Homo sapiens: one gene and its partners. The protein of the gene in region 1 purifies or fractionates together with the protein of each later gene. This does not show direct contact. Each region holds a gene or a part of one and is shown in the gene's direction. Other genes may lie near its edges.

Region 1 (5,834 bases):
GTAGAATCTGAGGATGGAGAAGAATGGCAGGATAAGACTAACTTTAAGGTATTTGCTTTTGAGTGACTAGTCACTGACAGAATTAGCCCATATCGGGGAAAACAGGATGATCAGCACTCTCCTGTTAACGTTCTAGACAGTTGGGGGCCATTTATCTTGAAACATTATCTTGTAGTAATTTGCATTCACATTGATAGTAGAAGCTGACGTTTTCTTTGGACAACTCTTTTTTTCAGGTTTCCTCAAGCATCTGCTTCCTACATATTACTACAATTTGCACAGTATGGGAATATCTTAAAACATGTGGTAAGGCTTAATTTTTTTCAGTTCAGAGTTTTGACTAAAGAGGGATAAGTTGTGAATTGAGAGAAACTGCTTCTGAATTTTGTGGGTTTTTTTTAAACTTAAATTTTTTTTTGAGTTTTGATATAATACATCCTTTGAAGTCTGGAAGGCTGGAAGTTGCCTAATTTTTGATAAAAAGAGATATAGTGAGAAGATATGGAGAATTGAGAGTTTGAAAATCCACCTCCTCTCACCTCCTTTCTTAAACAGTTTACAGTCTTAAAAAAGATAGATTATGCCAAGTATTATATTACTGTTTTCCAATTTGAGCTGCTTTTATTGGGGATAAAAGAAGTAGGAGGCAGTTCCTGAGCTTTTAGAGTTTTTAGAGCTTTATAGCTCTAAAATTTAAAAAATTATCTTACCTTGTGCTACAAGTTATAAGTAACAAATCCTTTTTTGTTGCTAGAGATTGACTTAACTCCTATACAAAATCAAATTGAGTAGTTTTAAATAACTTTATGGCAAGTGTTGCTTTGATCTCTTTACAATAAACATATTTTGAGAAGTATCTTACTTTCAGAGAATATGTACATGTTGATTGTAGAGAATTGAGAGATTGTTGAAGCTGTTCTAAATACGATTTTTGTTGAACTTTACAGCTTTTTACAAGGCATCAAATACGGAATGGAAGTAAATTTATCTTACCATGTTCCTATTTTCTAGTAGAATTCATTAGATGTAGATTTTATATATTTTCTATTTTAAGAGACAGTTTTATTCTTTGCAGATGTCTAATACAGGAAATTGGATGCATATTCGTTATCAATCTAAACTGCAGGCTCGGAAAGCCTTAAGCAAAGATGGGAGGATTTTTGGAGAATCCATCATGATTGGTGTAAAACCATGTATTGACAAAGTAAGTTATTGGTGATGTAGGCAAAGTAGCTTAATCTATATGAAGAGCACAAGACCAAGGATTGAAATTGGTCGTTGTGTCACTTGGTTTCACTGTGTCTGTTTTTCTTAGTTTGTAAAATGTGATGATGTTTATAGTACTCTTTGTGGTAAGCCGAAGGTATTTAATCATAGAGTTTAGAATTTAGAGGTAATCTGTCCTCACCTCTTCATTTTTCAGATAAAGAAACTGAGAGGGCTTAAGTAACTTGTCCAGAGTTGTTAAAGGTGAGGCCTAGATTTTAGGTCTCTTGACTACTAATCCATTCTCTTTCTTGTGCAAAGCGATACCAGATTCTTTAAAGTACTTAAATGGAATGGTACTATTTCAGAATGAATTAGTTCATATTAACATTAACTGATAGTTAACTTTTAAATGTCAAAGGTTTTCGTTTCAAAATATTTCTGTTTAAAACTATTTTAAAATTATTCTATATATACTCATTAAATAGTACAGAGTACAATTTAAACTGTTCTTTGTGGCTTGTTAAATCATTGTGAACATTCTTTAAGTATATGTGAACTTGTACTACATTCCAGGCATTGTGCTTGGTGCTAGTATACACACATTAATGAACAAAGCAAGATGTGGTTCCTATTCTTAAAATCTGTTATATCAGTGTAGTTATATAGTTATAATACTGTGCTGTAACAAATGTTTGCAGAGGCCAGAAGAATATTTGGGGTAACTAAGTGCTAAATAGCACTGGAGTTTGATTCTTTCCAATCCAGGTTTCCCTAAGAATTTTTTTGTCCTTGCTGATTTTTCATAGTGTTTTAGGAAATTCTTATTTTTGTGGTCTATAGTTGTATTGAGATTGTTTGAGGTCACTGAAGTGAGATTTCTGTCTGAGCATTCAATCTCAAATGCTACCTAAGAAGCAAATATTTTCTCAAGCCTAAAATTATTTGCAAGTTTAATTAGAGCAAATAAAGTATTTCATCTTTATCTTTTAATTAAATTTTCTAAGTAGGATGTAATACTGGATGATATGTATTATGTTTATAAACAAAGGAGTTATTTCTTTGTTTCTCCAGAGTGTTATGGAAAGCAGTGACAGATGTGCTTTATCATCTCCATCTTTAGCCTTTACACCACCAATCAAAACTCTAGGTACACCAACACAACCTGGAAGTACTCCTAGGATTTCTACCATGAGACCTCTTGCTACAGCATACAAAGCCTCTACTAGTGATTATCAGGTATTTTAAGGATTGGATAAAAAAAGATGTACTTTAATGGCTGAGTGCATAGCATGCTTAACTTTTTCATTGTATTGATTTGTATGCCATTAAATGTTTCCTGTGGAGGCTATTACCTTGATGAAACCTTTACGCTTTAAAAGTTTTCTGCTTTAAAGTTAACATCTTGGCCAATTGGAAAGTTATCATGAATTAAAAAAAAAAAATTATTTGCCATTCCTTTAAATTTTTTGAAAGTTGTTTTAGCTTTTTCTAAGTTATATTTGCATACATACGAAATGTATCCTGTGTGCATCTTTGACATGAGGGCGCATTAAAACTTTATTAAATTGATGACTAAATTGATGGTATCCAAAGTGCAGAACCTTAGGTTGGAGTAGCTTTGGTTATTTAAATGAAGACATTGACCAACCTCCAGACAGAAAAAAATTTCTCACTTCAAAAAAGCTTAAAGAAGTTAATTATGTTCTTTGAAGAATGGTAGAAGTATTATGATCTCATTCAGTATATTATTGTCTCCTACTGACTAGCCAAGTGTTCGAACTTAACCAGCTGCAGAAACAGGTCCTGAAACACACAGTACATGAAACACTTGTGCTTTAGTAGGGCAGATAGTGGTAGTTCAGTTTTTTGACTTCCTCTGAAATTTGGAGATTATTCTAGAACTGTTTTTTTCTTTAGGTTCTATTACTGTTATTTTAAATTTCCCATTCAGTGCAGCTTTTGTTATTCAATTTTTCTTTCTTTTGTTTTGAGACGGAATGTCTCTCTGTTACCTAGGCTGGAGTACAGTGGTGCTATCCCAGCTCACTGCAACCTCTGCCTCCTGGGTTCAGGTGATTCTCCTGCCTCAGCCTCCTGAGTAGATTACAGGCACGTGCCACCACGCCCAGCTAATTTTTTGTATTTTTAGTAGAGATGGGACCATGTTGGCCAGGGTGGTCTCAAACTTTTGACCTCAAGTAATCTGCCCACCTTGGCCTCCCAAAGTGCTGGGATTACAGACCTGAGCCACTGCGCCCAGCTATTCAATTTTCTAATTTAAGAAACAGATGTTATTTGCTTTGCCAAAGGAATAAAATTTTGGCATTCTTAAAAGCATAAGGATATTCTAAGTCCATATTTTAATTTTAAAAATATACAATTCAGGCCGGGCGCAGGGGCTCATGCCTGTAATCCCAGCACTTTGGCAGGCCGAGGCGGGCGGATCACGAGGTCAGGAGATCGAGACCATCCTGGCTAACACGGTGAAACCCCGTCTCTACTAAAAATACAAAAATTTACAATTTAGTGCTATAAATGCATTTTGGTGTTTCTCTTTTAAATGAGCAATTCTAGAATTGCCTATGACACTGAAGTAACAATAACCTAACCGTTTTTTTTGTGTGTGTTTTTTAATAGGTTATTTCTGACAGACAAACGCCAAAAAAAGATGAAAGTCTTGTATCCAAAGCAATGGAGTACATGTTTGGCTGGTAGTAGAACACCAAGAAGGAGGTTGCTACACTAAAACAGAGTTAGCAGAGTGCTGCTGGTTCCTTCGGTTAGTTATATAACTGTTCCTGCAGTATTGGATAGCTATCTCATACTTCTTTTAGAAAGAAGCCTTTTTCATTAAGGATACAACCTATTTGTAGCTCGCACTTTAAAAGATGCTTGAGATACATTTTAAAGAAAACTAAAAATCCCTGTAAATAGGATTTTGTGCTTTCTGTAACAGTGCATGCTTCAGCACAGAAAACTCAGCATTGATTATTGTAAATTAAATAACTGAAATTGTGGTGAGACGTCATAGTCTTCATGAGAACGTGGGGGTGAATTTCATGAAGGGGAACTATAGTTATTTCTACCGACACAAATATTATAATTAGCAATTTGAATTATGGTCTTTTAATTTAGATAGTATTTAATATTTTAATTATCCTTGTTTGTATATGTCCTGTCACAGAGTGTCCTCTTGGTGTATTCTAAAACGAGCATTCTTTTAAAAAACCTAAAGTTTCTTGATAATAAACATTGTCAATGATATGTGTATTAGTCTGTTTGCATTGCTATAAAGGAGTACCTGAGGCAGGATAATTTATTAAAAATAAGAGGTTTATTTGGCTCAGGGTTTAATTGGCTTGTAGCTGTACAAGAAGCATGATGCTTTACTTGTGGAGGAAAGTAAAGAAGAGTGAGCATATCACATGGTGAAAGAGAGGAAGAGAGCAGGAAGAAGGAAGTTCTAGACTCTTTTTAATAACCAGATCTCACATGAACTCATTACTGCAGGGAGGACACCAAGCCATTCATGAGGGATCTGCCCCCATGATCTAAACATCTCCCACTAGTCCCCACTTCCAACATCGGGGACCATATTTCAACATGAGATTTGAAGGGGACAGATATCCAAATGATATCAATATGTATTGAACATTTTTTGAAAGGGTGATTTATTATAAAAAGCTTTAAGTATTCATTGAAAGAGAAAATATGTATGAACCACTATATACCAGCTTTAATTACCATTAAATTTTGCCATACTTGTTTCTTTTCTTTCCCTTTTATTTTGTTTAAAGCACATCCCAGATAAGATGTCATTTTACTCTAAATACGTGAGGATATATCAAAAAAGAATATTTCTACATGGAATTACAATGTCAGTATCCCATTGAACATAATTAATACCTTTTTTTTTTTTTTTTGAGACAGAGTCTTGCTGTGTCACCCATACTGGAGTGCAGTGGTGCGATCTTGGCTCCCTGCAGCCTCTACTTCCTGGGCTCAAGTGATTCTTGTGCCTCAGCTTCCCAATTAGCTGGGACTACAGGCGTGTGCCACCATGCCTGGCTAATTTTTGTATTTTTAGTAGAGACGGGATTTCACCATGTTGGCCAGGTTGATATTGAACTCTTGAACTCAAGTGATTCACCTACCACGGCCTCCTAAAGAGCTGGGAAGTATTACTAAGTAATACTAAGGAATGTACTGGCATGAATGAAGATTCATTTATAAAGTATATTTTCATCTGAAAACTTTTACATTGAAGTCTTTTTCTTCCAGTTTAGGATTATATTTTATATCCTATTTCATAATGTGCAGAACTCAATTATTCAATATAGAACTGGCTACTAAATTCCATTTTAAAAGTCGTGCATTTGTATTTGAATTAATACACATTTTATTAAAAGGGTTGTTTATTGGAGGGGGTGTTTTATTTATTTGCATAGGCCTTTATGGACTGTGAAGTTTGCTTTTGGGCAAAAAATATTTGTTTGCTATATTTTGTTATTTCTCTTGGTATCATATCTTACCCATCTTTGTATCTGTCATTTATTTTAAAAGATCCAGGAAAATTTCAGAAAGCGAGCTGTCCTATTTTTGAACACTATATAAAAACAACAAAA
Region 2 (6,644 bases), on another chromosome or scaffold:
TTATGAGAATCCAACTAATGCCTGATGATCTCAGGTGTAACAGTTTCATCCCCAAACCATTCCCTCCCCCGCTCCCCCTGGAAAAACTGTCTTCCACTAAACCTGGTGCCAAAAAGTTGGGGACCGCTAGGTTAGAGCCTTGCTACTTAAAATGTGGTCTGTGCAGTATCAGCTGGGGATTCTTTGGAACTATAGCCTCTGAGCGCCACCTTAGGAGATGCTCAGGTGATTCCTATGTCCCTTAACAGTTGAGAAGTACTAGATTAGAGGAGATCCACTTGCCTTCTCAGGTGAAGTGCATTTTCAGGAGACTCTGGAGCCCTTTGTTTTCTGACCTGGTAATAACTCTCTTGGGGGGAATTTTTCAGGTGAAAAAGAAGGGCAGACACGGAATCCAGAATACTAGAACTAAATGCCCCCTAGATTATTCAATGAGACTGGTAGCTCTTGGGAGTGGGGACAGCCTTCTACATCTTCAAATCACTTAACATTTGTTAATGAACTCTGACCAAGGTCACCTAGTTGATGGCACAGTTATAGCTATTAACCTCTGACATTTGTTTAGCACTTTAAAATTTATTAAATAGCTTCATTTTATTATTTTGTATGGAAAACAACCATATGAAATAATTAGGACACTGCAAATGAGAAAAGTGAGACTCAAAGAATTCAATGTTTTTTCCAAAGTCTGTAAGAGGGGCCCCCATTCTCTTTCTTTCTTTCCTTTCTTTCTCCCTCTCCCTTCCCTCCCATTTTTTTTTGTTTTGTTTTGTTTTTTGTTTTTTTTTTTTTTTGAGACGGAGTTTCGCTCTTGTTGCCCAGGTTGGATGGAGTGCAGTGGCGCGATCTCTGCTCACTGCAACCTCCGCCTTCCAGGTTCAAGGGATTCTCCTGCCTCAGCCTCCCGAGTAGCTGGGATTACAGGCATGCACCACAATGCCTGGCTGGTTTTGTATTTTTTAGTAGAGATGGGGTTTCTCCATGTTGGTCAGGCTGGTCTCGAAATCCCGACCTCAGGGGATCAGCCCACCTCAGCTTCCCAAAGTGCTGGGATTACAGGCGTGAGCCACCGCGCCCGGCTCTTTCTCTCTGGCTTGCTTGACAGGGTCTCGCTCTTTGACCCAGGCTGGAGTGCAGTGGTGCTATCTTGGATCATTGTAGTCTGGATTCTCCTATCTCAGCCTTCTGAGTAGCTGGACTAAAGACGCTTGCCACCACCACGCTGGCTAACTTTTGAATTTTTTGTAGATACAGGGTCTTGCTATTTTGCCCAAGCTGGTCTTGAACTCCTGGGCTCAAGAGATCAGCCTCGGCCTCCCAAAGTGCTGGGATTACAGGTGTGAGCTACCACACCCAGCCTTACTTTTATTCTTAAGTGAGAATAACTGGTTTGGGTGTATCTAGGTCCAATCTCTCTGTGACTCACTTTCCTCATGGTGACAGAACAGCACCCACCTTATGGGGTTGTAAAGATTATAAAAGCACTTATCGTAACAAGTGCTCAGGAAATAGTTTTGCAGCCCGGCAAGGTGGCTCAGGCCTGTAATCCCAGCAATTTGGGAGGCCAAAGCAGGCAGATCACTTGAGGTCAGGAGTTTGAGACCAGCCTGGCCAACATGGTAAAACCTCGTCTCTACTAAAAATACAAACTTAGCTGGGCGTGGTGAAGCATGCCTGTAATCCCAGCTACTCCAGAGGTTGAGGCAGGATAATCGCTTGAACCGGGGAGGCAGAGGTTGCAGTGAGCTGAGATAGCACCACTGCCTTCATCCTGGGCAATAGAGCGAGACCCTGTCTCTCAAAAAAATAAAATAAAATAAAGTTTTCCTTTTTGAGACGAAGTTTCCCTCTTGTTACCCAGGCTGGAGTGCAATGGTGCGATCTTGGCTCACTGCAACCTCCCCCTCCGGAGTTCAAGAGATTCTCCTGCCTCAGCCTCCCGATTAGCTGGGATTACAGGTGCCCGCCACCACGCCCGACTAATTTTTGTATTTTTAGTATAGATGGGGTTTTCAGCATGTTGGCCAGGCTAGTCTGCGAACTCCTTTCAGATGATCCACCCACCTCGACCTCCCAAAGTGCTGGGATTACAGGCGTGAGCCACCGCGCCTGGCAGGAAATGTTAGTTTTCCAACCGTCCCCACCTCCCTTTCCAGGACGCCTAACCGTGTGGGTGCAGCACTGTTCCTCCTCTCTGAGGCTTTTCCCTCAGCTTTCCAGCCAGCTGCCTGTGACATAGCCTGTATTTTCCTCTGGGTGATCCACAGGCCTGGGAGGATTAATTTGGTACTTCCCTGAATGTGGCTTATTTCGGGCTTTCTAAGCGCTAAGATAGTGAGTGGGAGAAGGTGTTCGGGAATTCGGAGCTGGGAAAAACAGTAGTCTCATGGAAAACAACAGAAAAAAACCCCACTCCAGCCTGGTAACCAACGGTTGGCCGGGGGACGTGTCCGCGCTGCTCCCCCTCCGGCCGCCAGGGGGCGCAGGAAGAAGCTTTGGAGGTCTGTCCCGGGACCGCGTACTCGTCCTTCTTTCCCGTTAGTCTTTTCTTCACTTCCGTTGAGTTCCGCCTCGCCGTTTGTCCCTTGCGGTACCCGTCCGCATACGAATCTAGCCCGGGAACCGAGTTGCGGGAGTGCGGTCTGTGCCGTTCCGGCCAGGAGTTTGCCGACTGCAGACGTCCTGCGAACCGGCAAGATGTGCTCTCTGGGGTTGTTCCCTCCTCCACCGCCTCGGGGTCAAGTCACCCTATATGAGCACAATAACGAGCTGGTGACGGGCAGTAGCTATGAGAGCCCGCCCCCCGACTTCCGGGGCCAGGTGGCCAGGGCGAGGAGGGAGGGGACCTACAGGCATGGGGGCGGAGTCGGGGACTACTGGGGAAAGGAGGCAGTGTGACAGGGGCAGGGTCACAGAGTCTGGCGGAGTGGAAACAGCTTGGCCCCGGCAGGAGGCTAGAAGGGCTGGAATCTGTTTTAGGACTGGGATTGGAGTATAACGGGGGAACGGTTAAGGAGCTGTGGAGGAGGCCTAGAGGGAATGGAGAGAATGAGGGAGAATCTAGGGAGTGTGAGGATGCGGGAGAACTATCTAAAAGTTGGGGACAGTATCTGGGGAGGATCAGAAGGATACAACATGGAACTTTTTTCCATGGTGTTCCTGGGAAGGACAAGGAAGGGAAACTGACATTTATTGAGCGTTTGCTATGTAAGAAAGAGGCTGAGTCAGGTGTTTTCTAAAAATGTCATATGGTTTCATAATCACAGCAACCCTATGAAATATTATTCTAGTTGCACAGATACGGGAGCTAAGACTTGTTTCCCATTCTCACAAGTGTTAGCTTTGTGGAAATGGGAAACAGACCTCTGGAATCTCTTATACTTAGCCCAGCGGTGGGTTGGAGATGGCACGGAATTAAAGATTTGGGAAGAGACTGAATCACCGTCACACTCCTCACTTTTGTGCTATAGTGGATCAATCTTCCTGTCCTACAACTGACAAAGGATCCCCTAAAGACCCCTGGAAGGCTGGACCATGGCACAAGAACTGCCTTCATCCATCACCGGGAGCAAGTGTGGAAGAGATGCATCAACATTTGGTGAGGCATGGCAAAGGGTTTCCTGGGTCACAGTCTGCAGATCCTGGAAAATGAGTCAACACCCCTTTACCTTGGGGTGTTCTTCAAAAGACTTTTATTCAGGCTGTCTCCACGAGAGCTGTATATCCTAAATCATATGAAATTTTTAGTCCTTATTATAGAACTCAAATGCTCAATAAATGTCAGGTTCCCTTCCTTGCCCTTCCCAGGAACACTATGGAAAAAGTACTTCCATTTCATCTCTAGTAACTTGCCTTGCTTTCTGGCTTGATTAGGTGAACCTGCTCCCTGCCCCCACCTCATGGCATTACCACTTCTGAGCTTTTACCTGAAGCTCAGCAAGATCAGATATAAGGTTGCACTGAATAATCTCCTACATAGGTCATCCACTTTGCACTTGTAGGAGTGGAGCTACACTACCTGGTTTCATTTTCTTTTTTTTTTTTGAGATGGAGTTTCACTCTTGTTGCCCAGGCTGGAGTGCAGTGGCGTGCTCAGCTCACTGCAACTTCCACCTCCCAGGTTCAAGCGATTCTTCTGCCTCAGTCTCCCGAGTAGCTAGGATTACAGGCATGTGCCACCACGCCCAGCTAATTTTGTATTTTTAGTAGAGACAGGGTTTCTCCATGTTGGTCAGGCTGGTCTTGAACTTCCGACCTCAGATGATGTGCCCGCCTTGGCCTCCCAAAGTGCTGGGATTACAGGCGTGAGCCACCGCGCCCGGCTCATTTTCTTTTTCTTTTTTTTTTTTTTTTTTTTTTTGAGACGGAGTCTTGCTGTGTTGCCAGGCTGGAGTGCAGAGGTGCGATCTCGGCTCACTGCAGCCTCCGCCTCTCTGGTTCAAGCAGTTCCCCTGCCTCAGCCTCCCGAGTAGCTGGTACTATAGGCATGTGCCACCACGCCCAGCTAACTTTTTGTATTTTAGTAGAGATGAGATTTCACCATGTTGGCCAGGGTGGTCTGGCCTCCTGACCTCAGGCCTGCCTTGGCCTCCCAAAGTGCTGAGATTACAGCTACTGCACCTGGACCTATTAATGGCACATATTAATTCCTTTAAGGGTTATTTATGCCAGGCACAGTGACTCACGCCTATAATCCCAGCGCTTTGGTAGGCTGAGGCCAGCAGATTGCTTGAGCTTAGTAGTTTGAGACTAGCCTGGGGAACATGGCGAAACCATGTTCTTTTCTCTACAAGAAAAGTACAAAAATTAGCTGGGTATGGTGGCATGCACCTTTATTCCCAGCTACTTGGGAGGCTTATGTATAGGAGGATCACTTGAGCCTGGGAGGTGGAGGTTGTAGTGAGCCAAGATTGTGCCAGTGCAGTGGCACTGAGTGAGACCTTGTCTCAAAAAAAAAAAAAGGGTTACTTAATATTTTTATTAATACCATTACCATTTGTAGGATAAATTCCTAGAAATTAAGTTGCTGGCTCAGAGGGTATGTTCATCTGTAATTTTGTGAGCTGTTCCAAATAGCCCTCTGTCAAAATGGTACATGTATATGGTCCCACCAGCAGTGTATGGGAGTGCCTGTTTTCCAACACATGTGCTGTCAAGCTTTGATCTTTGGTACTTCAGTACAGTTTAATGGGCATGCCTGTGTGTGTGAAGTTGAATATCAGTTTGTTGAAAAGCCATTCATTCCCAGGCTCCTTGTCTCCTACTTCTGTGGCTGCTGCTTCTCAGGGTTTTTGGTGGCTCCTCTTCCTGATGTCCCTTAAATGTTGGTGTTCTTGGGGCTAGATTTCCAGTTGATGCATCAGACCTGGTGTTCACGTGTTTGCCAAATTATCCTGCTTGAATATTTCGCAGACTTCATATATTCAGCATGCTCAAATCCAGTCTCTTTATTTCTCTCTCCAAATCTGCTTCTCTGGATGGTTCACTTTAAGGAATGATCATATTACTCATTCAGGAAAAAGTGGTTTGAGTATAGGTTCTGGGGTAGATAGATGGTTGAATCCTGACTGCTACTTTCTACTTAGATTACCTTGTTCATATTAATTAGCCTCTTCACACCTTTGTTCTCTCATCTAAAAATGCAGTGATAGTCTGGGCGCGGAAGCTCATGCCTGTAATCCCAGCACTTTGGGAGGCCAAGGCGGGTGTATCACTTGAGGTCAGGAGTTCGAGACCAGCCTGGCCAATGTGGTGAAACTCCGTGTGTAATCCTAATTACTCAGGAGGCTGAGGTGCAAGAATTGCTTGCACCCAGGAGGTAGAGGTTGCAGTGAGCCGAGTTCACACCACTGCACTCCAGCCTGGGTGACAGAGTGAGACTCCGTCTTAACACACACACACACACACACACACACACGCACACACACACACACACACACTGAAACCCCATCTCTACAAAAAATTTAAAAATTAGCTGGGCATGATGGTGTGCACCCGTAGTCTCAGCTCCTCGGGAGGCCGAGGCAAGAATACCTGAGCTCAGGAGATTGAGGCTGCAGCGAGCCGTGATGGTGATATTGCACTCCAGCCTGGGTCACAGAGCAAGACCCTGTCTCAATAAAATAAAAATAAATGCAGTGATAACAATACCTATCTTGTAGGATTGTCATAATGGCTTGATTAGTTAATGTGAGGCACCTAGTCCAGAGCTGGCACATTGTAAGCATATTAGCTGATGTAATTATTACCTAGGTGTTTCTGTTGTATTGCTCTTTCCTTTACTAATGTCTGATTAGTCTTCACATCTTGTTTATGCTAATTCCTAAATCTCTCAAATCTGTCTCTTTTTCTTCATCCCCACCAGTTCAGGCCACTTTCACCTTTTTCCTAGGTTCCTGAAGTAGATTCTTTTTTTTTTTTTGAGACAGAGTCTCACTTTGTCACCCAGGCTGGAGTGCAGTGGCGTGATCTCAGCTCGCTGCAACCTCCGCCTCCTGGGTTCAAGCAATTCTTCTGCCTCAGCCTCTGAGTAGCTGGGACTACAGGTGCACACCACCACGCCTGGTTAATTTTTGTTTTGTTTTATTTTTTTGGTTTTTTTTTTTTGAGACGGAGTCTCGCTCTGTTGCCCAGGCTGGAGTGCA
Region 3 (5,965 bases), on another chromosome or scaffold:
GTGAGGTGTATATTTTTAGGGAAAATTGATCCAACATATAGCATCTTATATTGAACCAAGAAAATGACGTGGGTATCATTGTAGATTGAAAAAATTAAGCCCAAAACATCACGTTGTACACTCTAAGTATATGCAGTTTTTCATTGGTTAATTTGAAACAAATTAAGTTCAGTGTGGTGGTAGCATTAAAAACACTACCAAAATGATGGCTATTAAATAGGAGACTTCAGCTTACTCTAGCACAAAGCCAGGTGAATTTTTGCAGACAATATCTGTTGCTGTTCTGGTTGCAGTAGTCCAGAGACAAAAAGTTGCTGTCCCAGAGAAGAGCAGCTGAGACGACTGGGTGATTTGGAAGTGGGGCATAATGTTAGTACCCCTTCCATTTAAAAGACAAAAGCTGAGAGGAAGAAGTAGAGGTGGAGGAACCTGTCTTGTTCACCAAATCCCTTAGGTAGAAGACACCTATGAATGTAAGACTGATAAAAGGACTTAATGTTCCATGTGTTTTGGAGCCAGGCATTTAGTGAAAATGGATGAAACTGGCTGGGTGAGGATGGTGGTGAACCTGTGAGCACAGGCTTCCTCTGAAGGGGGAAGCTGTTGGTTAGCCCTGCTTCATTGTTCCCATATGGGACTTTGGATCCCATATGTGAACTTCCGGTCTTTTTAAAAAAGAGAAGCCTGAAATCTAAACAAATTTTGAGGTGAAATCTTTCAGTTGTTAAACATTGGCAACTAATCTTGATATTTAAAAATCACTATATAGATCAAAGCAAACTCATCTAGTTTCAAAATCAGTACTCTGGTGGGGTCATAGCCCCAAAACAAATAGATTACATATGAAAAATGATTTAAATAAATTAACACACATCAGATTTTGAAAGGTTTGAGAGTGTTTCAGATGTTATCAGCTTTCAGATCAGCATTCCTCTATTCAACAAATACTTATTGAATTCCTACTGCATACCAAACAATGTGCTAGAAGCCAGGGAATCACAGATGGAAAACACTCTTGGATCTGACCTTTTAGTGGAAGGCACACAAATAATGATACAATATAACTGCCAAAAGGAAATCTGTCCAAAAGGAGTCCGACTGGATAAGATGATGTTTGATAATGAAAGGAAGCCTTGTTTGCAACAAAAAAAGTTTAGATTTTATTCTATAGAGATATGGAGCCATTGGAGAATTTTGAATAGGCTAGTTCCATCAAATTAGCGTTGGAAAGATCATTGTAATTCTGGGTTGGGTAGATCATGAGTCTGACCAAATATGGAGCATTCATTATTGTAAGTTTTTGTCATATACCATCACTCAGCCAAAATTTGTCTCATATTTTGAAGAATAATTGTAAAACTCTTAAAAACTCCAGTCTTAATTTTTAAATTGATTTTTCAAAGATTTCTAATTTCCATTAACCTTTAAAAAGTCATATAATGGGCCAGGTGTGGTGGCTTACACCTGTAATTCCAGCACTTTGGGAGGCCGAAGCAGGTGGATCATTTGAGGTCAGGAGTTTGAGACCAGCCTGGCCAATATGGCGAAACGCCGTCTTTACTAAAAATATAAAAATTAGCTGGCTGTGGTGTTGCACACTTATAGTCCCAGCAACTCAGGAGGCTGAGGCAGGAGAATTGCTTGAACTCGGGAGGTGGAGGTTGCAGTGAGCTGAGATCATGCCACTGCACTCCAGTCTGGGTGACAGAGTGAGACTCCTTCTTAAGGAGAAAAAAAAAAAAAAAGAAAAGTCATATAATGAAAATTTGGTACTTGGGATGTTTAATTTCTTATATTTCTTATGGTGGTTTTATTAAGAAGATGGAATCCAGCTGGGCGAGGTGGCTCACATCTGTAATTCCAGCATTTTGGGAGGCCGAGGTGGGCGGATCATGAGGTCAGGAGGTCAAAACCATCTGGCCAACATGGTGAAACCCTGTCTCTACTAAAAATACAAAAATTAGCTGGATGTGGTTGTGCATGCCTGTTATCCTAGCTACTCGGGAGGCTGAGGCAGGAGATTTCACTTGAACCAGGGAGTCGGAGGTTGCAGTGAGCCAAGATTGCGCCATAGCACTCCAGCCTGGCCACAGAGTGAGACTCTATCTCAAAATAATAATAATAATAATAATAATAATAATAATAATAATAATAATAAAAAGAAGATGGAATCCTAATGCAATGTGTTTGTTTTTGTGGCTTGTGCTGGAGTGACAAGAAAAGTTCCTTTTGTTTTTGTATAACAGACTCTATTACTAAATTGGAGAGTCATAAGATGACTTTTGAAAAAGCTGTTTACAGATCAGATTTATAGATATTCTGGGCAAATTAGCCTTTGGTGTGACTTTTGTTAACTTGAAAGAACTTTCAGGCCAGGTGTGGTGGCTCATGCCTATAATTCTAGCACTTTGGGAGGCCAGTGCAGGAGGATTACTTGAGCCCAGGAGTTCAAGACCAACCTGGGAAACATGGCGAATCTGTCTCTACAAAAAATAAAAAAATTAGCCAGGCATGGTAGTATGTGCCTGTGTCCTAGCTACTCAGGAAGCTGAGGTGGGAGGATCGCTGGAGCCCCAGAAGTTGAGGCTGCAGTGAGCCGAGATTACACCACTGCACTCCAATCTGGGCTACAGAGCAAGATCCTGACTCAAAGAAAAGAAAAGGAAAGAAAAAGAAAAGGAAAGGAAAAAACTGGGGAAAATGGGGTAAGGTTAATATTTTTTTCCTGTATATGTTCACAATATAGATTTGGTATGTTCAGTCAAGTAATACTTAAAATAGTAATGCAGTAAAACTGGATAGATTCTAATGCAGTAATTAAAATTGCCAATTAGAAATAAAATGTGAATTGATGAGTTCATTCAAAATTGCTTAGAGTTAGATAAATTGACGTTGAAGATGAAGATATTCATGGGGGGGGAAAAAGAGAGACTATATCGATCTGACAGAAGAAGATGTATAAAGCTCTTTGAGTGGAGCTTGAATGCAGTAGTAAAATCGAATCTTGAGACTATAATCATAAATGGAAACAATCTACTGAGCTTTGGGTAAATGCGTTAAACAAAAATTTGGTATGTGTAGAATTTGAAAGCGTTGCTGCTAGCCTGCTTGGATCAGGTTGCCTCTTCAGCACTGGATCTGTTGTTTTACAGAAGAAACTGCTTTTCAGACACCAAAATCTAGCCAGATGCCTCGGCCTTCAGTGCCACCATTAGTTAAAACATCACTGTTTTCTTCAAAATTATCTACACCTGATGTTGTGAGCCCATTTGGGACCCCATTTGGCTCTAGTGTAATGAATCGGATGGCTGGAATTTTTGATGTAAACACCTGCTATGGGTCACCGCAAAGTCCTCAGCTAATAAGAAGGGGGCCAAGATTGTGGACATCAGCTTCTGGTGAGAATTATATATTTTTTAAGATTTTAAATGTCATGTTGCAGAGGATCAGACAGCCTAAGTTCTTATCTTGCCTTTTCTTTTTTAAAAATAGATCAGCAAATGACTGAATTTTCTAATCCTTCTCCATCTACCTCTATTAGTGCTGAGGGTAAGACAATGAGACAACCCAGTGTGATTTATTCATGGATTCAGAATAAACGTGAACAGGTAGGATGATATGGTTATAGGATTTATATTTGCATGTAAAATTGAGAACATTAAGGATCTCACATGAGTAAGTCATCAGGAATAAGAAGCTTTTTTTTTTTTTTTTTTATGCTTCGTGTATTGACTCAAATGAAACAGCCAATATTTGACTGGTTTGAGCTATACACATTGTAATTTCATATGACTTGACCTGATAACTTCATGTAAGAAATATTTGAGTTCTTTATATATCCAAGGTGTGCTTTTAGGCACTGGGAAAAAAGCAAACAAAACAGAGTCCTTGCCCATGTAATATTTACATTCGAGTGAGGGGAAATCAGTGAGTAAGCAAATGTATTATATTCTGTTTCTCTGAAATATAAAATATCATTAATTATAAGACTTATGTGCTATTAAGAAAAAAGATGCCTTAACCCATGACGTGCTATTGACTGTAAGATGCATCTCAACAGGTCATATTCAAGATATGGAAAACATGCATAAGAAGGAAGAAATTTGATATAAGTCTTAACTAGAAAAACAGAGCAAGGAAGACAGAGAGTTCCTAAGGGAGAGGGTATCATTTTATGTGGAGTGATAAGGGGAAGTCTCATTGATAAGGCAATGATTGATCAGAGACCTGAAGGGAGAGCTGGGAGCAGCCCAGTGCATCTGAGATGGGAATGGCCTTGGCTTGTGTGAAGAACAATGTGGATACCAGTGTGGCTGGAGCAGAGTGAGTGAGGGGAGAGTGGTAAGTGGGTGATAAGATCAGAAAGGTAGCAGGCACCCAGGGCTCATTGGCTGTAGTAAAGACTGGCTTCATCTCTGAGTGGGATGGAAAGTCACCGTATGGTCTTGCCCACAAGAATGATATGATGTAACTTATATTTTGAAAGTGCTGCTCTAGGGGCTGTGTTGGGACTAAACTCTTGCAAGGTAGGCATGTAAGCCCAGAGACGGTGTTAAGGTGTTAAGTAATCTAGTGGGAGATGGTGGTATCTGGGACCAGAGTGGTAGTGGTGGGGGCTGTAAGATGTGGTCAAGGTCTAGGTATGTATTTTAAGTTAGATGGAATAGGATTAGCTTATGGTTTGGTTGTGGTGTATACTAGAAAGAGTCAGTGTTCACTGGTAAGGTTTTTGGCCTGAAGATCTGGAATAATATAGTTGCAATTTATTGAGTTGGAATTTACTGATGATTCTGGAGAAGGAGATTTGATAGAGGTGAGGGGAGGGAAATCAGGAGTTTGATTTTGGACAAGCCAATTTTGAGATACCTATGAGACAACCAGGTGAAAATACTTAGTAAGAAATTAGGCATATAGCGGTAGTGTAGGGGAAAGTTCTGGGCTAGAAATGTAACTTTGGAAGTTTTCAGAGTATAGATAGTATTCAAAGCATGAGACTCGATGCAAACTCTTGAATGTAAATACAGAAGAAAAGAGATATCCAAGAAAGGGGCCCTCCAATGGCTAAAAGTTTGGGAGATAAAGAATAGCAACAGAGACTGAGGTGGGTAGAAATCCAAGAAAAGAAAGAGTTTCAAGGAGGAGAAGGTGGGAGTGTCAGATGCTGCTGATGGGTAGCATGGGGCGGGAACTAAGAATTAACTGTTGAGCTAGAAATGCGGAGGTCACTGAGTCCTTGACAAGAGCTGTTGGCTGGAGTAGTGGGGACAAAAAAATGCATGAGTTCAGGAGAGATTGGTAGACGAATTGGAGACCACAAGAAAAACCACATTTTTCAAGGAATTTGTTGTAAGTGGAACAGAAAAATGGGGCAATAGCTGGGAGGAATTGAGGGGTCAAGGAACTTTTTTAAAAATTTTGAGATGGGTTCTTGGTCTGTCTGTTGCTCAGGCTGGAGTGCAGTGGTATGATCATGGCTACACTGCAGCCTTGAACTCCCGGGCTCAAGTGATCCTCCCACCTCAGCCTCCTGAGTAGCTGGGACTACAGGTGCCTGCCACCATGCCTGCCTAATTTTTTTAATTTTTATTTTTTGTAGAGACACAGTCTCTATGTTGCCCAGGCTGATCTCAAACTCTTGGCCTCAAGCAGTCATCCTGCCTGAGCCTCATAAAGTGTTGGAATTACAGGCGCGAGCCACCACGCCCAGTCATGTTTTTATTTTTTAAGATGGGAGAAATTATAACATGTTTGCTGATGGAATGACTGATTAATAGGGAATGAATGGTTAAAGGCATTTCATAAACTTCGGGATCCCATACGGCTCTATATGCCATTAGTACTGCCGTGTCACTTTCTACCCAACCAGACACGTGCTGCTTGCTGCAGCCTTCTGACTAGTCATGCAGCTTTGGGTGAGAGTATGGTAGGAGCAGATTCACTTTTAAGTTAGTTGGGTTAGCTTTTA
Region 4 (5,965 bases), about 150 Mb from region 1:
ATGGACAGGAGGATGAGGCAGGGGAGGCCAGACATCAGCCCTTTTCTCTTCAAGGGGCTCAGCTTTGAGAAAGAATTAACCTGGCTGGGGAGGGAAGCCAGAAAATGGGGAAGGGGGGGCTCTGCTATTTAGGCAGCACCTACCTAGTACTCAAGAGGCTCATTGCCTGGATCAGCAGTAAGCCAGGGCAGTGCCAAGTTCCCTGGTCTTGGAAAGGGAAATCAGAATCATGCATAATTCCAGAAAGAATGGGATAAAGCCTCAGAGAGCCCCACCTCTCCCCCATGTCAGATGATACAAGCAAGGGCCAGACATACCTGTGTGTGGCCACTCGGCCAGTGAGTGGGGAAGTCTGGGCTAGATCCCAGTTCCCTGGACCCCCTATGCAGTATTCTTTCTCCAGGGCTATGCCACCCTGAGCCCAGGGAAGGGAAAAATACTTTAGCAGTGGAATCCCTTTTTCAAATGAATTGTTATCCTGGGAAACTATTTCAGTGACAGCCTTGGAACCCTTCCTCATTTCAACCACTGTCCATCTTCACTCTGTGATCCCCAGGGCCACAATGTTCCAATATACGGACCTTTCAAACATGGTTCCCAGTGGATCAGGGTAGATCCAGACCCCAGGATACTTGGAATTACAGGGATCACCACACCAAGAAACTGGAAGCTTTCTCAGGAGCTCTGCTCCTGCGAGGACAAAGCTGGGTCTTGTATCCACTACTTGTTGGTTTGTTCTGTTAATGGCAGAACCACGGTGCAGAGCCACTTGGGGAGGTGTGTCTGCTAGACACTATAATGGATTCACAGCTGCATGTTGGGCCTCTGCTGCTGGAGCAAGTGGCCAGTATCCTCCTCACAGTTGCTTTCTATAATTGCAGTTGTAAATATTGCAGTAGCCATGCTTGTAAGGACTTTTATAAATAGGCTTCCTTCACGGAATCCAAGGTGCAAAGCCTTATACTCACTGATGAGCTGGACTCTTCTGGGATATAAGTGATCCTGAGTGAGAGCCAGGCTTGCCAGGTACTCTTTGGGGCTAGCAGGACCACAAAGCCTGAGGATGTGCTGAATGCTCTCCATTCCCTTTTTTTTTTTTTTTTTTTTTTTCTTTTTGAGATGGAGTCCTGCTCTATCACTCAGGCTAGAATGCAGTGGCACGATCTCGGCTCACTACAACCTCCTCCACCTCCGCGGTTCAAGCAATTCTCCTGCCTCAGCCTCCTGAGTAGCTGGGATTACAGGCATGCACCACCATGCCTGGCTAATTTTTTTTGTACTTTTAGTAGAGATGGAATTTTGCCATGTTGGCTAGGCTGGTCTCGAACTCCTGACCTCAGGTGATCCACCCGCCTCAGCTTCTCAAAGTGTTGGGATTACAGGCGTGAGCCACCGCGCCCGGCCACGCTCTCCATTCTCTTCTGGGCCTACCTCACACCAAATTTAGAAATTTGTATCCAGAGGGACTTTGGAGACCATCTTTTCTCATTTTCCCTTTATACCCATTTTACAGACAAGGAAACGGAGACCCAGAAAGGTGAAGGGCCCTGTTAGAGTCTCACAGTGAATTAGTAGCAGAGCCAGCACTGGAACCCACTTCTCCTGACCTTTGGCCCTGTGGTTTTCCCACCACACCACCTAGGCGTGCCTCATACAATCTGTCTGGAGAGTTTCCTTCCTTTTTTGAGAGGGAGGGAGAGAACAAGGAGCATTGTATCCCACATCAGTTGGGAATTCACACATCTCCCAGCAGCTTTAAGGAAGCCTGGGCAGTGGCAGCCTAGAACTTTGGCTGTTCAGGTTGCCAGCCCTCAGGGCTTTGCTCTGAAGCTTACTCCGGCCGTCCCCAGCCTCCCCCAGCCTCCCTGCTAGGGAGGAGCCTGCCTCCGGAGCCGGCCTGGTGCCTCATAGGCCTCCTCTTGGGAGGTTCCCTCTGTGCCCTGTGGCGGCGACTCTGAGGAGGTGGGGAGGGGAGGGTGTGTGTGGCTTGTGGGTGGGTACATGGTGCTGCTGACACACTCAAGCTGGAACCATGTTGATCTCACCGCCCCTGAACACTTCCTATGTTGACAGCTCCCACAAGTTGCCCCACACCTCACCAGTCAGGGGAGAGACTTCTAGGTCAGTCAGGAGGCCAAAAGTTGTCCAGAAGCAGCCAAGGGGGAAGGAGGGCTTGAACTGGGTCAAGGCCAGCCTCCTTCTTTTCTGCCTCTCATTAGCGAGGGATCTAGGGGGCTTCCTGGGCCTTAAGGGGAGCCCTGGTGGCCCTTTCAGTGGTGAGCCCTAAACCCAGGCCTGCAGCAGGGCCATAAGGCTTTCTTGGCAATTCTGCTGGGCTCAAGACAAGACAGGTTTAGGAGCAGGAAGTATTCAGGGCCTTGGCCAAATGGCCTCATGACCTCAGCCGGGCTGTGGACTTCCCTCTGTGTGACAGGCATGGGATTGTCCTCTCTGGTGCTGTGATGATTGTCCTCTCTTTGCTGTTCAAAACATCACAGCAACAGACCTCCAGGGCTAAAGGGAGCATTGTGGGACTCTGACTTGGACCCAACCAGGACAGTGGCTCTTTCCTTCATGGGGTGACCTGAAGTCCAGGCAGTATCCCTCCTTGGGGTAGCTTCTCCCTGCTCCTCCAAAAGTAGCTTTGATTTTGCCCCCAGGTGTCCCGTGAGAGCTGACCCAGGTCTTATTCCCCTTGAGATCTTCTAAGCTCCTAGTGTAGCACCGGGCAGTTAGTAGGTGTGCAGTCAACGTCTGATAACTGAATGGGTGGGCTTTCCCTTTGTGTTGCTTTCTGCTTTGGCCCACAGCCGTCTCCTTGTGTCACCTCTGCCTGAGAGAGGCATTGGGGTCACAGCTCTGCAGGGCTCTGTAGAACCAGAGCATTTGCCCTGCTCAGTAGAGCAGAGTTCATGCTTTCCGGTATGAGTGACAGATTCCTAACTGTCTCACTGGAAGAAGCTAGATCCTAAGCTCTTTGCAGGGGAATCTTCCTTTGTTTGGTTCGCAGATAAATCCCAAGCCCGTAGAACTTCATCTTGCACATGGAACCAGGTGCTCACTTGTTGAGTGGACAGATATGGTGGGCAGCAGGATTTTACCTGCTGGGGGCTCCTCTTCCTTTTGCATGTCCTGTCCAACTTAGCACTGTACCAGGCATGTGGGGGAGTACCTGGGGTTGAACCGTGAGCAGCTGGCACCCTGGGATTGGCAGAGGAAATCGGGAGTGGAGTGGCACTCTTGGCCCTCCCATCAGCAACATAACATTCCCCCCTGGGTGGTTCTTAACCTGTGTGGGGACTCCAGGCCCAGCTACTTAACAAAATGGGGATAATGAGGCTTGCAGAGCAGGCAGAGTGATGGGAGGAGAAATTAGCCAGGGTTTGGAAGAAGCTGCTTAAGTGGGTGGGGCCACGCCTGGCTGGCAGGAGGGGACTCTTGGAGAAGCATCCCCAGCTCCTTCTCTCTGGCCTGAGCACTGAATCAGGGCTGATGTGATAGGTGCTGCCATCATGCCTGGGCCAGTGAATCTCTGACCCATTGCTGTCCTGTTTAAACATGGACTTTAAACTTGGACATCACCTTCCGGGGCAGATTCAGCTCAAAAGAGCCCTCCCAGGCAGCCAGACATCAGGGATCCACATGTTCTGGGGCCTCTGAGTCCAGCCATGCTCCTCTTGCCCTTCCTTCTCCTTTCTCCATTTCCAGAAGGGCTTCTTGCCTTACTTAAAATACAGTTTTTAAAAAATACTGTGAACCATTGTCTCTGTTCTAACCATGATCCTTGGCTTTGGCCTCTAGCTGTCTCCTGAAGAGGAGGAGAAGCGTCGCATCCGGCGGGAGAGGAACAAGCTGGCTGCAGCCAAGTGCCGGAACCGACGCCGGGAGCTGACAGAGAAGCTGCAGGCGGTGAGGAACTCTGCGTAGGGTGGGAGCACCTCTGGGTGGGCTGGAGTGAGAGCCCCGGGGGTCCTGATCCTCTCTCCCACAGCTGTCTCCTTACCCACAAATGCCCTACAGATGAGTCAGTGGAGATAGAGCTTTCCTTCCTTTGGACACATGGGTCAGCATTGTGTTGATTGAAAAGAGAGAGAGAGAGGGAGGTGGCGTTTAGCACCAGCCAGGGCCCAGAGGGAAGAAATGAACAACCTTCTGTGGGGGTGCTAGCCACGGTTTTTACGCAGCACCTGAGTGTTCTCTGCTCACAGAACTGTGGGGGCTCCTGGGTGAGGGATGATGGAGGGTGGGAGCCAGGGCAGGTCCAGACCTGCCCCATCCAGGGCTGCTTCCCGAGGTTCCAGCCACTCCCATGCCTGCCGCCATCAGGAGTGGCCCAGCCTGGCCTAAGCACTCTGGGTTGGGCCAGGGAGAAGTCTTGATGGAGATAGGTCACGTGGCAGCAGGGTTGTATTTTCTTGGGGTTTTCTCATTTCCTTTATGGGCAGGCGGGTTCCCCACCTCTATCATGAACTCAGAGCTGTGGCCATGGTACCGCGTGCTGCTCTTGTGAGTCACTCTCCCGTGCCGCCTAATTGCCCAGACCTGGGGACCCGCAGCCCTGCCCTTCCCTCTGTTAAGCTTGACCTGACCAACGTCACGTAACTCCCTTCAGAGCCTGGCCCTGCAGGAAGGGCCGTGTGCTGTGTGGAGGAAGCCCCGAGCCAGGGTTGACTCTCCCCAGTGGAATGCTTTCAGAGTGAGGAGATGAGAGAGACTCTGTCAGTGGTCCTCACAGTGACTGCCCAGGATGGGGCTTTGGAAAACATCCCCTCACACTTTTTTTGTTATTATAATTTTTTTGAGATGGAGTTTCGCTCTTGTCGCCCAGGCTGGAGTGCAGTGGGACGATCTCAGCTCACTGCAACCTCTGCCTCTTGGGTTCAAGCCATTCTCCTGCCTCAGCCTCCCAACTAGCGGGGATTACAGGTGCCTGCCACCATGCCCGGCTAATTTTTGTATTTTTAATAGAGACAGGGTTTCACCATGTTGGCTAGGCTGGTCTCGAACTCCTGACCTCGGGTGATCTGCCTGCCTTGGCCTCTCAGAGTGCTGGGATTACAGGCGTGAGCCACCACGCCTGGCCCATCCCCTCACTTGAGTTAATGTTTCCAGGTACCATCCACCCACTTAGGCTTGTCTTTCTCTGTCCTGCAGCCCTCACTCTGGGGTGTTGAATGAATTGAATTGCGTGAATTCTGTGATGCCTGTAGTAATGGCCCTCGGAGGTGTTAGAGCCGGGGAGGATGAGTGGGAATTCTTCATTCCCAGGTGAGGCAGATCCACAATCCACTTCCTCAGCGGGCCCTCCCACCACTAACCTTTCTGTGATTGGCACTTCAAGGAGCTGTGCCCCATGTGGCGCTCCTCACCACCCGCCCCGGAATAGCCCTGCCCCCTGAGGCTCCTCTACTTTCCTTCCCTCCTCCCAGAGGCCTCACACCCTACTCCCCTGCCTCCCCCACCTCCCCCGCCCTCTGACCCAGCCACCCAGGCCCCTGAGCCACATCCTCCACAGGAAGCCTCTCAGAAGCTCATGACGTTCGTCAGACCCTTGAGACAGACGGAAACTGTTTTTCACTCCGGAATATGCTGTCCTCTGCTGAACGAAGCCCTTGCCCGTATGTCCTCACTGATGAACAGGAATCCATGTTAGGGAAAACGTGGGGAGGAGGCTGGTGACACACACCTCTTCCCCTCCCACAGCGGCCCCTCCACGTGCACTTGCTCGCTTCTGCTTCTCTGGCTGGGGATGAAAGAAGGGGGCTGAGGTCCTTGCGGGGTGACCCTGGCATCCTCACAGGCCCTCTCGGGCTGTCACGTTACTTCTGTGTCAAGCGTGGTGGCTGAACCAAATGTTCTCTGAGGGTTCTGGGAGTCCTGAAATATGTGCTTAAGAAATTGGAGCAAAAGGCCAGGCGCCGTGGCTCATGCCTGTAATCCCAGCACTTTGGGAGGCTGAGGCGGG
Region 5 (5,965 bases), on another chromosome or scaffold:
CTTCAGTGAAGTAATGGTGTTCTGTGGTACCTTGAGCTTGAGAGTATTGTGCAGATGAGATAATCTGGCTTCCTGTTCATTATGTCATAGCAAATACACTTGCAGTTTCTTCTATTTTCTCCTCTTGATACCTCCAGACCCCACCTCTTTGTCCAGAATGTTGGAGAATTGTCAGGACTTAGGAGATAAGAAGGAAATAGTCCAGTTTGGTTGTTCAAGGAATTCCAGTTTTCTGCTGTCTTCATTTCTCAACTTGAGGGTCTTCATTCCATATTTGCAGTTCCCTAAGGGATAGTATCTTTTTTTTTGGCGGCAGAGGAACAGGGTCTCACTCTGTCGCCCAGGCTGGAGTGCAGTGGCGCAATCTTGCTCACTGCAACCTCTGCCTCCCAGGCTCAAGTGATCCTCCCACCTCAGCCTCCCGAATAGCTGGAACCACAGGGCACCACCACCACGCTTGGCTAATTTTATGTATGTATGTATGTATGTATGTATGTATGTATGTATGTATGTATGTATGTGGTATTGTTTTTGTAGAGACAGGGATTCCCCCTGTTGCCCAGGCTGGTCTCAAACTCCTGAGCTCTGGCGACCCATCCGCCTCAGCCTTCCAAAGTGCTGGGATTACAGGTGTGAGCCACTGCACCTGGTGGGGTAGTGTCAACTGTAGTTCTTATTGGATGCTTTGCTTAAGAAAACACATGGCTAAATTTCCAGAACTTTTATAATGTCCAAAATAAAGACAGTATATTTAAAAGTTTGTGCCGTGAATTGTAAGTTTGCTGCTGTAGCTTTGCATCTTGCATGGCAGCCACATAGTGCGCGTGTTCCATTAATCTTTGTTAAATGAGCTAGGTATGAGGCTGTATGGCAATTTGCTTATGTTAGACTTTGTATTTGAAATCAATGGGCTATTAATTTCTTATTCCTAAAAGTTTAGTTTTTCAGATGAAGCAACTTGTCTCTATTTAGAATTACATTACTAATGTTTTGTAAAGGACTCATTAGTCAAAGTATGTTAATTAAAGGACACGCCTTGGGTTGAGGGAGTAGACAGTATGGTAATATTGTTGACTGGTATTTATACAGAGCCTTGTAGCCTAGAAGTTAAATTCTAGTGAAAATGCAGTCATTAGGAATTAGCTAGGATCTTAATATGGTTCTATCAAAACAGATTATTTTAGATTTAATGTAGGTTATTTTAGTTTTAATGTAGGTTAAGTTAAATACATAATTAAAACATGTGCAAGTAATTGAATGCAAGATAAGCCATTCACAACAAAGGACTATCTTTTTATTTTCCATTCACTTTCAGAAGAAATGGTTATCCAATAAAGAAAGATTAGTTTATTAGGCAAAAGGGAAAAATAAGAAACTTTTAGAAACGTTTTATTTCCCTCAGCCTACCTGCATCCCCCTTAACTCACCGCAATCACATTCTTCTTGAAAACACAAATATATGAAACAGAGAAAATAACCTTTTCACGATTGTTAGAGTATGTATCCTAAGCTTTTCTATGATAGCTTCAGTTTAGGCACATTACTTTTCTCAGAGCTTAATTGCCAGAATAATTTGCTTTTCATTGCTTTTGTCAGAACAAAGCTTTCCAATAGCTACCCAAGTGCTTCTATCCAGACTAAATCATGTATAAAGCAGCAAACACCTATGCATTGTTCCGTAAATTTGAAACATTTCTCCAGCTAGTAGTTTCAGATAAATTAGCTATTTAATGCATTCTTCTTAATATGAAACATTCTAAGTAATTGTAAAATGTAAGGAACTAGATGTTTGCCAACTGTAGGTGAAATTCTTCTTCTATGTTGGGTGAAAAAATTCCAGTTCTAAAGCTATGAACAGTCACGCATACTTGATGGTGGTCCCGCAAGTTTACAATACTGTATTTTTACTGTACATTTTTCTATGTTTAGATACACAAATACTTGCCATTGTGTTACAGTTGCCTATAGTATTTGGTACAGTAACATGCTGTATAGGTTTGTAGCCCAGGAGTAATAGGCTATACCATATAGCCTAGGTGTGTAGTAGGTGATACCATCTAGGTTTGTATAAGTACACTCTGTGACATTTGCACAATGAAATTGCCTAAGGGTGCATTTCTGAGAATGTATCCCAGTTGTTAAGTGACACATGTCTGGATTTAAAGTAAATTTGAAGTATTTTCTGGTTCCTATAAAATATTCTGAATGTATTGTTTTCTTTTGAAATACTTTGTTATAAAATTTATCATGTCGAAATGTTTAAATTATGTCTCTTACTCTGCAATGCTTGTTTTAGCAGGCTTAGTCTTTCATCAACACACTTACACTTCACTTAGTATGAAAATGTCATTCAGGGCTCTGTGCAAAGAAGGTGTCATCCTAACAATTGGTGATATCTTCTCAAAACCCAGGAGTTTAAGGGGAAATTTCTTTAAGATTACTTCGTGATTCTTTTATACTTTCATTGAAACATGTTCCAACTAAAGAAGAGATAGGGAACAGTTATGTGTGCTTCTTTCTAATATCTGGGAGGATAGTTCTATTTGCATATTTATAAAAAATATTTCAAAAGATGCATGCTGTGCAATTCTCTTTCATTTGCAGTTTTCATATTTGTATCATAACATTGTTATTCAGGTTGGGGTACAATTTACTTTCTGAAATGAAAACACCATACTGCCTTGTTTTTTTTTCTGTTTTCTATAACTTAGTCTCTTTGGAATTTTTCACAATAACTGTTTCCTTTTCCTTCTTATTTTATAGCTTTGAAGAAAGATGACACCACCTTTGATGAGGTAGGTTAAATTTCTTTATCTAATGTTAGATGTATTTAATGACTACCAGGTAAAGTCAGTAGCTGCCAACTTTGTACCTGGAAACAAAAAAAATGCCTTTAAAACGCGAGATAACATCTGTTTATTTCATTGCATTATTATATTTTCAAATTTTAAATAATCGTTCAAATGAGTTTTGGTAGCAAGTAACAGAAATATGTCTTTTTCAATTAATAAATGAGCTAATTAGAAGACACATGCAGGCCTTTGTGTTGTTGCCTTCTTGCTAGTGGTAGTGCTTGAGACACGCAGAGTGATGTACGTGCTTAAGGCAAGTCTGGAGCTGTTGGTAAGTTGGGCACCATGGCTCACCATGGCTCCTTGCAGACCTCAGCTGAATCAGGGTGTGATGTGTTGTCGATGCCACATATTGTCTGTCAGTCTCCCAAGGGAGGAGCTGACTTTTCCTGTTCTAGTTTTCCTATTCTTTGTATATCAGATCCGTCTTGATCTACTTGCCACAAAGTAGTGTAAAATACTGTTCAAGTAAGGCAGAGAGTTCATATGTAATTAAATAGCATCCTGAATGTGATTTTAAAATTGCAGTCATTCCTGAATTTTTGTAGTATAAGTAGGAATCACCAGAGAAATAGTGAATGTTTACAAAATATTTTCACAGTGCCAAAGAGTGAAATGTTTCATTGTAACCATCCTGAGCCACACTCATTGATCTGTGTTGTAAACTGGGCCACATGTGTATATAGATTGTGTTTTTATATAGGAACATGGGTGTTATCTATACAGTGTGCTTACCCTAAAGCCTGATGAAAGCATAAATCAGTTTGGTTTGGTGGTTTGGTTTGTTTTAATAGTTACATATTCCATGAAATATGCTACCTGTCTTCCCTCTGCTGCAGTGCTTCAGTGAGGAAAGGGCATTTGTGCTCATGGAAAGTCCCCTTGGCCATGTGGCTGGCTGTGGTGCATGGCAGGTCTGCTCAGAGAGAACCTGCTCCAGGCTGGGATTTCTGGATGGGGCCACCGTCATTTGGCTGTCACGGTCTGCTGCTTCATCTGCTGCACCTGTTCTCTTTTTCCTGGGCTGAGCTTTACAAAGCTGTGTGTCCCTGGACTCCAAAGCAACTTTCCCTGCCAGCATTCCTGTGACATCCTCTAAAAAACTTAATTCTTCTAGGCTTGAAGCAATAGAGGAGTCTTTTCTTCTTCCTTCATAGTGGGCAATAATGGAGTTTTCCTCTAAACATGTATTTCTGGAATTTCGGTAGTGTTGTTATTGAGATATTTTTCAGGAGAGTGTTTTCTTTCTTTTCAGGAGCAATCAATATGAGAATATTTGGTACCATTTTTCTCTTTGTAAAGAAAGTTTCCCCTCTAATTATGTAGATAATTTAAGCTTACATAAAAAGAGAGAAATAAGGAAAAGGAGAAAGAAAAAATCTCATAAATCCTGTTACCCCGATACAACAACTGTTGAATGTTCTTGCTTCTTTCTCCGTGTTTTAAAAAAAGCAGCCCATTATTATATCCCGCTTTTTTCTTTGATATGATAACATTATATTTTCCCATGTTTTTACAAACTCTTCCTAATCATCATTAGGCATTTCGAAAACCTTTTTTCTTGCTTAAACACTGTTGTTAGTGATTAGCTTTAAAAAGCACCTGAGGCTGGAGCCCAGCTGAAGGTTAAAGATGTGTCAAACCTGTAACTACTCCCTCTCTCTGTTATTCTGAAACCTCTGTATAGTCAAAGGTCTGGAGTTTGTAATTTGGGTCAAAATCATCCTTAGCTTTTGCAAAGTGGCTTCCTTCCTCTGCCACAAGAGATTGTAAACTATCACAAATCAGTAAATCACAGAATGCTCTACTTGGAAGATCCATTGGAAATAATAATTTTCCCACTCCATCATTACACAGATGAAGAAATTGAGATCCAGAAGGGGCAAGTCATTTCCAGCTAATGAAGGAAAGACTCAAGGCCAGAAAATCTTGGGAGATAGTGGTAATGAAGGCATGCCGGGGTATAATCCCCAATTCAACTACCCTCTGTTTGGGCATTTGACTTATTAATTTCATATCCTTTGTAAAATAGAGATAATAATAGTATCTTTCCTTTAAGGGTTAAGATAATTAAATAAGGTAATGCATATGAAGGTTTCAGAATAATGGCTCACAAAAAGTGAATAGCTCATAATTGGTGTTATCATCTTCATTGCCTTCATCATCACCATCATCATCGTCATTGATGCTTTCACTTTGACATCCACCTTCTGTAGTTGGAAGGGCTACAGAGTAGATAGAAGGATTAAAAATGAAGAATTACAGCTATGAGGAGAGTTAATTTCAGATATTCCTCTAACATTTCACCTAAAGCTTCATGTGATGACTTGCATATTAAAACTGAGAAAATATTATCTAAAACCCACCATTGTTTAGATTCCGTATGGGGGTGATTGGATTCACTTTTTAATCCCTGAGTGTGTTGCTCGTAGTTAACTTTCAGTACGTATCTATTGAATGTGAGTAAATATCTATTGTAGAGGAGTAGAGAGAGTGATGAATTAGGTGTTAGGCAATGTGGATTCTCATCTGCCACTTTCTAGTTATTTGGGCAGGTCGTTTAACTTACCCCGGCCATGACATTCTCATTTGTAAAATCAGTTGAACTATGATCTTCAAGTTGCCTCTTAGCTCTAAATGTAGGATTCTAAATAATGTAACAACCAACATAAGATTACAATTTTTTTTCATGTTTTATGTCAGACAGGTAATGTACTGACCTTGTAGTAAGGTTTGAGGGAGGCACATCTTACACATGAGGTGAAACCCCAATCATCACGCTTATGAACTATACAAAAGGATCAAAATGACAATTTTATCACATCAGAAAAGAGCACTAAAACTCTGCTTATGTACATAGGAACTGAGTTCTTCTGTGATCATTTTCAGATTATAATAGTAGAAATTTTTTTGAACGCTTGTTTTTTACCTTCTCTCTCCTGGAGCTGGGGAACTCTACAGTCCATTGGAATCAATTCAGATTTTAGTCTTAAAACTTTGAGGGTTGGGTCAGCTTCTTAGGTATGCAATAAGGTGTGGCAACTCTCCTTAGTATTTATGAGCTGGAAGGCTCCTTATTTCAAGGAGTGGCCTCTTCCAGAGAGTGCCTGAGC

Evidence for each region.
Region 2: the proteins of NUP35 (region 1) and AAAS purify together in Homo sapiens (affinity purification with mass spectrometry; one large-scale study listed by BioGRID and IntAct). This does not show direct contact.
Region 3: the proteins of NUP35 (region 1) and NDC1 purify together in Homo sapiens (affinity purification with mass spectrometry; one large-scale study listed by BioGRID and IntAct). This does not show direct contact.
Region 4: the proteins of NUP35 (region 1) and FOSL2 purify together in Homo sapiens (co-immunoprecipitation; one large-scale study listed by IntAct). This does not show direct contact.
Region 5: the proteins of NUP35 (region 1) and CDK14 purify together in Homo sapiens (co-immunoprecipitation; one large-scale study listed by IntAct). This does not show direct contact.

What each region holds. Positions count from the first base shown.
Region 1 is NC_000002.12:183,157,208-183,163,041, forward strand, and holds the end of NUP35 (nucleoporin NUP35), read left to right. Parts: intron 1-236; coding exon 237-306; intron 307-1,075; coding exon 1,076-1,204; intron 1,205-2,280; coding exon 2,281-2,445; intron 2,446-3,846; coding exon 3,847-3,924; 3' UTR 3,925-4,473; downstream 4,474-5,834. UniProt on the Homo sapiens protein: Functions as a component of the nuclear pore complex (NPC).
Region 2 is NC_000012.12:53,317,519-53,324,162, reverse strand, and holds the start of AAAS (aladin), read left to right. Parts: upstream 1-2,552; 5' UTR 2,553-2,697; coding exon 2,698-2,820; intron 2,821-3,470; coding exon 3,471-3,598; intron 3,599-6,644. UniProt on the Homo sapiens protein: Plays a role in the normal development of the peripheral and central nervous system.
Region 3 is NC_000001.11:53,794,332-53,800,296, reverse strand, and holds part of NDC1 (nucleoporin NDC1), read left to right. Parts: intron 1-3,152; coding exon 3,153-3,398; intron 3,399-3,492; coding exon 3,493-3,608; intron 3,609-5,965. UniProt on the Homo sapiens protein: Component of the nuclear pore complex (NPC), which plays a key role in de novo assembly and insertion of NPC in the nuclear envelope.
Region 4 is NC_000002.12:28,404,958-28,410,922, forward strand, and holds part of FOSL2 (fos-related antigen 2), read left to right. Parts: intron 1-3,801; coding exon 3,802-3,909; intron 3,910-5,515; coding exon of another isoform or gene 5,516-5,618; intron 5,619-5,965.
Region 5 is NC_000007.14:90,601,455-90,607,419, forward strand, and holds part of CDK14 (cyclin-dependent kinase 14), read left to right. Parts: intron 1-2,763; coding exon 2,764-2,795; intron 2,796-5,549; exon of another isoform or gene 5,550-5,654; intron 5,655-5,965. UniProt on the Homo sapiens protein: Serine/threonine-protein kinase involved in the control of the eukaryotic cell cycle, whose activity is controlled by an associated cyclin.